Homo sapiens: one gene and its partner. The protein of the gene in region 1 interacts with the protein of each later gene in a pairwise test. Each region holds a gene or a part of one and is shown in the gene's direction. Other genes may lie near its edges.

Evidence for each region. Proteins that work in one complex are often made in the same cells at the same time.
Region 2: the proteins of SLC35B1 (region 1) and DRD2 interact in a two-hybrid assay, tested with the Homo sapiens proteins (one large-scale study listed by BioGRID and IntAct).

Annotation. Positions count from the first base shown.
Region 1 is NC_000017.11:49,705,165-49,709,164, reverse strand, and holds the start of SLC35B1 (solute carrier family 35 member B1), read left to right. Parts: upstream 1-1,200; 5' UTR 1,201-1,220; coding exon of another isoform or gene 1,221-1,331; coding exon 1,332-1,435; intron 1,436-1,720; coding exon of another isoform or gene 1,721-1,822; intron 1,823-2,096; coding exon 2,097-2,200; intron 2,201-2,830; coding exon 2,831-2,961; intron 2,962-3,268; coding exon 3,269-3,299; intron 3,300-3,883; coding exon 3,884-4,000.
Region 2 is NC_000011.10:113,464,488-113,468,928, reverse strand, and holds part of DRD2 (D(2) dopamine receptor), read left to right. Parts: intron 1-4,441. UniProt on the Homo sapiens protein: Dopamine receptor whose activity is mediated by G proteins which inhibit adenylyl cyclase. Positively regulates postnatal regression of retinal hyaloid vessels via suppression of VEGFR2/KDR activity, downstream of OPN5.

The DNA of each region.
Region 1 (4,000 bases):
GGAGACAGTGGGCTGGGGACACCCTATCTTCTATCCCTTACTCCTCCCTCTAAAAGACTTCTGGCTCCCCCGCAAAGCCTTATTGAGTCAGGCCCGGAGCGATGGGTGTGGTGCTGCCCAGTATTTCCTTCCTTTGCCTGAGGCTGTGCCAAAAGAGCAGGCTGCTAGAAGAGGAGCCTCGACCTAGAGAGCAGCCCAGAGTCCACCAGGTGGCCGGAGATTTGGGCCAATTAAGTAGGGGGTTGGAGGTAGTAGTAGGAAGACCTGAGGTCAGTCTTGCCCTGGCAATTCGTGCCAGCAAGTGAAGACCCAACACTTGCATGAGGAAGGGATCCAACGAGGAGCTCATTAATGGGAAATATTCAGGAGCGCGGCCGAAGGGTTTGCGCCATTGTTGGTGAGTTGTTAAGACTTGGAAGAAAACTGACTTCAGTAAGCTTCCATTTCCACCCCTCGATGTGAGGAAATAAGATCAGGGCTGACAAACAGTGATGACTAATAATACCTTAAGCTTGCACAGCATACTTTACAGTTTACAAAACACTCTTATTTGATCCTCACAACAGCCAAGAGGCGACAAGGTGGCTATTACTAATTATCCCTAGTTTCCAGACCTGGAAAACTCTGGCTCAGAACTTGGGTGACACGGGTAGGTTACCCCGCCTTTAAGTGACCAAGCCGAGACTTACTGTGCCGCTCTCCCCCTTGGAAGCCTAGTGATGTGCCTAGGTAATGAGCAGGTAAAGTCGCTGACGCTGGGCAGCAGCTAGACGGCGCTGAAGCTCCAGTAAGGAATTTGGCATTAGGACCCAGCAGAAGCCTGGCCGCCCGCCGCGGAAAAGACTATTGGATTTGCTCTGCCGACCACACCTCCTCCCGCCCCGCCTACCTGTCCGTCTTCGCACAGCGCAGCCAATTGGTGGCCTCCACATCCTTATACGTCATTATTCTACGCCCAGGTGGCTCTAGGACACCCTGTGGTGCTCTGGGTCGCAGTTGTCCTCAGAGTTGCCTGATTGGAAAAATCTCCAGGGCGAGGGATCAGTCTCGAGGCTGCCGGTTCCCCTGGCCCTCAGGGATGGAGCCAAGGTCCCAGGGCGGGTTTTCTTTCCTAGGAAGTGGTTGCTGGGTTCTGAGGAGTTTCCCCCTTGGCAGCCATGAGCCGGCAGTTCTGGTAGTGACTGCTGGGCCCTGCTGGACAGCGGTCGCATGCAGCTCCTATGAGGCCCCTGCCGCCGGTCGGCGATGTCCGGCTGGAGCTGTCGCCTCCGCCGCCGCTGCTGCCGGTGCCGGTTGTGAGCGGGTCTCCAGTCGGCTCCTCTGGGCGTCTCATGGCCTCTAGCAGCTCCCTGGTGCCCGACCGGCTGCGCCTGCCGCTCTGCTTCCTGGGTGTCTTTGTCTGCTATTTTTACTATGGGATCCTGCAGGAAAAGATGTGAGCGACCCCGGGGGCGGGCCGACAGTCTCTCCCCAGCCTGTGACAGGGATCCCGGGCCTTCTGCCTCTGGACCCGGGCTTTCCTCTTGTCCTCCTGCCCGGCTGTCGCCCTCTTAGCACCCTACTACTTTTGCAGCTATGGCTGAGCCTACCCAGAATTCCAGAACTCCAGGATTATTTTCTGGATTCTTCGGACTTGGTTATTTTCTTTTCTTAGCTGTTTTTCCCCGCTTGGTTCTAAGGGCCTGCGTTTTACAGGCTGAGACTTCTATTCCTCAAACAGGACCCGAGTCGGCCCCCTTTTGGTACTCCCAGATGCTTGCAAACAACCTATTCGTCCTCGGCCTTGGTGCCATAGCCGAAATACCGTCTCCTCCTGCCTGGGGTACCTGATTTCACTATCTCGTTCTGCATGTTTCCTCTCCGTCTTTTTCGGGTATTCTTTTCTTAGGCTTTGGAATCAGTAGGCTGGGATGTCTAGTTTCTAGATCCAGTAAAATCAGCCCCTTTTGCAAATGAGCCTAGTGGTCCTTAACAAACTCTGCCTACATCCAGAGAGGCAAGATAATTTTAAAGTTTTCAGTGGCTCGGGATATATTAGATGACAGTGAGTGAAATACACTAATTTCTCCCTCTTTTCTCATGCATTTCATTTCTAGAACAAGAGGAAAGTATGGGGAAGGAGCCAAGCAGGAGACGTTCACCTTTGCCTTAACTTTGGTCTTCATTCAATGTGTGATCAATGCTGTGTTTGCCAAGATCTGTGAGTACCCAGATAGTAATTTGTTGGGTACCCCACCACCCCAAGTTCCCTCAGTATGCTGGGCATTAAGCATTGATTCAACCTTAAAGGCTAACTCATGATCTCCACCCCATTTTGTACTTACACAGCCTCTCTGTGAAGTCTGTAAAACTAATGACTTTGAAGTGGAGTAAAATATTATTTCCCCAATTTTTATCAGCTTCTGAGTTAGAAATGTTCAGAGAATGGGTCTTCTATATTCCAAATCCCCATTGAAAATACTTAAAACATTTTTTTCTTTCCCTTTGAGTTTCTTTTGTGTGTCAGCTTCAAGCATGCTTTGAGCATTCTCTCTTTGTTCCCTGGGGACTAGCAGCAGAGCTGACTGGTCCCTTGAACTGAATGAGGCCCCCACCTCCACCCTGCATGTGGTCTTTTGTTGGGCTTAGGTAGAATTGGAAAGATGAATAATTTTCAGAGATTTCCCAGTGTAACAGGACAGAAATAGCTTGTGTCTTGTTTGACAGACAAGTTCCTTTCATGTGGCTTCAGCTTTGCTTAGTGGTCCATCCTAGCCCCACCAGGTTTCTCTTGTTTTTTTTTTTTTTTCTTTTCTTTTCTTTTTTTTTTTTTTTTTTTGTCTTCTCCCAGTGATCCAGTTTTTTGACACTGCCAGGGTGGATCGTACCCGGAGCTGGCTCTATGCTGCCTGTTCTATCTCCTATCTGGGTGCCATGGTCTCCAGCAATTCAGCACTACAGTTTGTCAACTACCCAACTCAGGTGAAACCTCAGGGTGGGATGATGGTTGGCTCAGATATCATTTGAAAAGGACTAAGAGTTCTTCCCTCAGGTCTGTGAGTTAAAAAAAAAAAAAAAAAAAAGATAACGGTCCTGTAAGACATTGGGAGTGTATAGAACCATAGAACTTACGTTTAGTGGTGGTGGGTTGGGCCATGATAGGGCTGCTTTCTGAGGCTGAGGTCTCTGGTGCAGGCCCTGTGCTTACTCATCTTAATCAGTGCGGTACCTAGCATAGTACCTGACACATCACAGATGCTCAGAAATTATTTGCTGGATTTAATTTCAGGTCCTTGGTAAATCCTGCAAGCCAATCCCAGGTAAGCAAAGAAGATGGTCTTCCTCTTCTGTCGTCACTCTTCCTATAGTAAGCTCTCTCTCTGCTACAACTGTGTCCCTCTCGGCTTCATCATCCCATCATGGCTGTCTCCAGGGACTTTCCCCCAGCTCTCCCTGCTGCCCATCCTGTCATCTGTGTCACTTCTTGTGATGTTCATAGGCTGGTAATCCTTAATAGGAGCTAAAGGCTGACCTAGCCTGCTTCACTTGGTCAGCCATTTCTGTGTTGCATGTGTTTATATTGTCATTAGACAACTTAATTCCCATTTTGATCATCAGTTTCTTTATCTCAACTTCTTTTCCTTCTCCACTGTTCCCTACCCTTGTCCTGTCCCTTCCTGGACTTTTCACCTTTGTTCTCTACCTCCTCCCTGTCTTATACTTAACCCTGTTGCTCAATCCTTATCTAGGTGCCAGCCTGGCACCCTCCTTTTGTCCTCTCTAAGCCTTCCTTCTCAGTCATTCTTTTCTCCCTGAGTCTTTTCTTGGTTCCTGGGAGGGAGGGCATTGGGGTCATCAATACCTTATGGATGCCTGAATTTTCCACTCTGTTTTTTCCCTGTAGTCATGCTCCTTGGGGTGACCCTCTTGAAGAAGAAGTACCCGTTGGCCAAGTACCTGTGTGTGCTGTTAATTGTGGCTGGAGTGGCCCTTTTCATGTACAAACCCAAGAAAGTTGTTG
Region 2 (4,441 bases), on another chromosome or scaffold:
AATGTGAGGGCGGGATGGCCTGGGATCCTGGACAGACACAGGAGTGACTCATGAGAGCTGCCTTTAAAAAATGAGCTGATTAGCCAGACGCGGTGGCTCACGCCTGTAATCCCATCCCTTTGGGAGGCTGAGGTGGGCAGATTGCTTGAACTCAGGAGTTCACAACCAGCCTGGGCAACACAGTGAAACCCCATCTCTACTAAAACACACAAAAAAATTAGGATCTGGCAGCATGCACCTGTGGTCTCAGCTACTCAGGAGGCTGAGGCAGGAAAATTGCTTGAACCTGGGAGGTAGAGGTTGCAGTGAGCCAGTATCGTGCCACTGCACTCCAACCTGGGTGGCAGAACGAGACTCCATCTCAAAAAACAAACAAACAAACAAACAAAAAACAAAAAAAACCCTGATCAATGCTTTTCTGATAGACAGAGGCAGGTGAGGCCTGGATGTCCCTGGGCAGGGCACTTAACCTGCTCATCAGTTATTTCAGGCACAAATAAGGGACTGTAATAATCGTGTTCACCTCATAATAAGTGAGAAGACTCCTCTGTTGTTGAGCCTCACCATGAGTTTTATGAATGACATATATCAATATTTAGTCACCTATTTAAACCCTTTAAAAACAACACCATATGGTAGTTAAACCTGTGGGCTCTGGAATTAGACTTCCAGGATTTGAATCCTGACTCTAACACTTACTAGCTATGTGACCATGAGCAAGTTAATTAACCTCTATCACCTGGGGGTTCTCACCTGTAAGTGGATGTTAATACCAACATAATTGGGTCACAGTAATTAATTAAGGTAATAGAGACAAGACATTTGAAAGAGTCCCTGGGAAAAGTGAGTACTCTTTAAATGTTAACTGTAATGATTGTTATTGTTATTATTAAGATGCTTAAGTAAGAAACAACACTTTGAGCTGTTGTCCTTTTGCAGTAATTCAGCACCTGATTTTACATTTCTGAAATCATGTTTCTAAAACGTTCACAAAATTCAAGGATATACTTCTTTCTTACACTCTCCACTTATCTGCACCAAAATTCTTTGGCTTTCACCTGTCAGCAGCTCTTGCTCATTTTGAGCGAGATAGGGGTTTGAATTGCTTGTCATCCCTTTGATTTAGGTGCAGCTGAATTCATTTCCATCTTACACCACATGAGCTAGGAAGAGGCATAAGTTATCCTGGTGATAGCTTTTCATGGCCTAATTTTTCTTCCTGGTTTCCTGGGCTCTGTGTCTGCTACCTCATGGTTGGAGCCTCCCTGATTGGCAGTGTCACATGGTATGTTGCTCTGGCACAGGCCAGTTTTTATTAAAAACAAAAAACAAGGAGAATGTACTGGTGTACAAGGACAAGGTGACTTTTTTTCTTTTCCCAGATTGAAAGGGCCAAAGAACTTCACATGAGCAGACCCCCAAAGCTGGCAGAAATATGTGTTCTGCAGCTTCTGGAGTCATTCTTGGCAGGAGCAAATGCTATCATGTTTTTAGGTGAAGTATGGTCCTGCCTGAGAAAGGAGGATGGAAACAGTAGCTTCTGGTCCTGAGATTCCCCAGTGCATAAAGATAATCCCTCTTGTTGGCCTTTTTCTTGGTCTATGAATCCCTTCTTGGGGAGGACTCTCTTGTAATTGATGTGCATCTATTTCTGGCCAGCTACAAATGCTCACCATTTAGCTATGGTAGAATATTTCAGAAGGCACTGTAGGTATTCTGTTCCTGGGTCATCTTCCTTGGTTCATCCTTTTTTGGACTCAGCCCTTTCAACTCTTTCACTCATTTATGGCAGGGTCAATAAGAGACATGTGTTGACAAGCAGAAACTAACTTCCAGGGTCCCAGGCAGAGGATGTCAGCACCGCCTCCCACCGCCTGCCCCCGCACCACGGTGGATCCATGTTTCCACACACTATTTTTCTTTAGTAGTATGTGTAGTTGAAGGTCTGGGATCACTCTAGAGTCACATTGTGACTAATGACACAAAATCTCCCTTGTGGCCTGTCTTCTGTGAGGAGCCAACTTAATGCTTAATGCTAATCTCTCAATTGTGCATTTCTTGTCTTCTCCACCAGACCATGAGCTCCTTGAAGCAGAGAATTTGTCTCATGCTTCTCTAAAATCTATTATAACCTAAAATGGTGCTAGGCACTTGGTAGTTACTTAAATTGTTGAGTGAGAGTGGGTGAGTGGATAAGTGATGGGTAGGTGAGAGACAGCTTACTTCCCCATAGCGACACTCTCCCTCTACTTTACTTGCAGCTTAACAAGAGTGGCAGTGTCTGAGGCATCCCCCACTAGAGGTATCTCATAGGTCAGCAACATACTTCATGCCTTCTCTCTTTCATCCCTAACCTGCACTATCTGGCCACCCTCAGCCATGAAGACATTATAGGTTGGATGGAAATTTTTCGCAGTTGTCACAGGGCATGGAAGTTGGGGAATATTGAATGGTTGGAACCTACTTCAATCAGACACACTCATGGAGAAAATGCACTGGGGGGGCTGTTGAGGAAACATACACAGGTGTGTTTGTTCAGGTCAGCCTGGGGACCTGAAGACAAAAGAGCTGTTATTGAGGGATGCCATTAGTGCTTTGGTGATTTCTGTGTTTAGACTTTGGGGAATTGGACTAGTCCTTACTTTAAAAGGTACAGATAAGCATGATTATACCCAAGACCCTCCAAACGCAGTAACAGTTTGAACCTATCTTTCCACAAAGCACTTTTAAGAAGTGGGCTATGCATCCCCTGTCCCTCTAGTTATTTAGTTAAACAAAGTGGTTCAGAGCACTCAAAAACCAGGCTAATGCAGGATCAGATCTTTGTTCTATCGGTCATGAGCTATGTGACCTCTATCAAGTTACTATCACCCCTTTGAGATGCAGTTCTTTATCCCTTCATAAAACAGGATGACTATATACTTACCTGATTGGGTTTTGTGCAAAGGAAATGAGTCACGCACATAAAGTGCTTGTCTCAGTACCTGATGCATGGTAAGCTCTCAGCAAACATTCACTATCATTATCCTTATCGTAATTATCAGTGGGCAGAGAAGTGTCCACAGAACCCTTCCCAACCTGTGCTCCAAATTTTATATTCTCTCTTCTGGAGGGAAGAAAGACACCATTGCAGATGAAGACATTAGACCAGGTATGAATTGGCATAGAGTGTTATACTTGAAAGAACCCAATGTTACACAGCAGAGAAGTAGGAGAGCTGGACTAGAACTCACTTCTGCCCAGGGTTTTTCCTCCACACCTGGCTCAGGTTAGACCATGGAGTTTTGAAGAAACTCAGTGGCTAATGAATGGGATTTGAAGTGAAGATGGTACAAGGTAAGGCCAAAGGCTTAGGCAGGGGCCTGACTATGAACCTTGAAGTCTTATGTAGGAGACTGGATTCCATCCTGAGGGAAAAAAGAAGCCAACTTGAAGGATTGGGTTTTAAGCACAGGGACAACTCCAGTGATTCAATTTGCAGTAAAACAAACAAACAAACAAACAAACAAACAAACAACAACAACAACAAAAACTGGCCAGGCATGGTGGCTCATGCCTGTAATCCCAGCATTTTGGGAGGCCAAGACAGGCAGATCACTTGAGGCCAGGAGTTTGAGACTAGCCTGGCCAACATGGCAAAAGCTCATCTCTACTACAAAACTTAGCCGGATGTGGTGGCTCACACCTGTAATCCCAGCTACTGGGGTGGCTGAGGCACGGGAATTACCTGAACCCAGGAAGCAGATGGTGCAGTGAGATCAGGCCACTGCACTCCAGCCTAGGCAACATAGTGAGACTGTCTCAAAAAAAAAAAAAATCACAGAGGCTGCTATGTGGGGGAACTGATTATAGAAGATTCAAGACTGGAGGCAGAGTACCTAGGAGAGTTTGCAGTTGTTCAGGACAGCAATGCTGGCAGCCTGATCTAGGGAGGGGCAGTGGAGGTAGGAAGGCTTGAAAGACCTGAAAAGATATCTTAAATTCGCCAGAACTCAGTGATTGATGGGCTATGGAGGATGAGGGGAAGAGAGAAGCCAAGGATGATTTAAGAACAATGAAGCAAGGGAATTAAGGATATCGGTAAAAGTGTATGCATATTGGGCCAGAAACCTAAGCTGGATTGAAAGGGAAGGGAAGATAGGCTGATAGAATCGGTGGACTGATGGTGTTGATGAAATCAGAGAACTGGTATACTTGGAATCACTGAGCACTTGAACTGGGCTGCAGAGGCAATTGTGGTCACACAGTGGAGTAACTAAATTTGTAACCTCAGAGAGGAACACCCCTGGCGATGTCAGTGCTCAGAATGCACTCATAGGAGCAGGTGACTAATGTGAAGGGTGTGCTTGGGGAGTAGGAGGCCAGGCATCAAGAGGCCAAGCTGTTGGAAGTTGATTTCACCTGAGTTCATGGCACAACTTGGGCTGGAGTTGAAGACAGT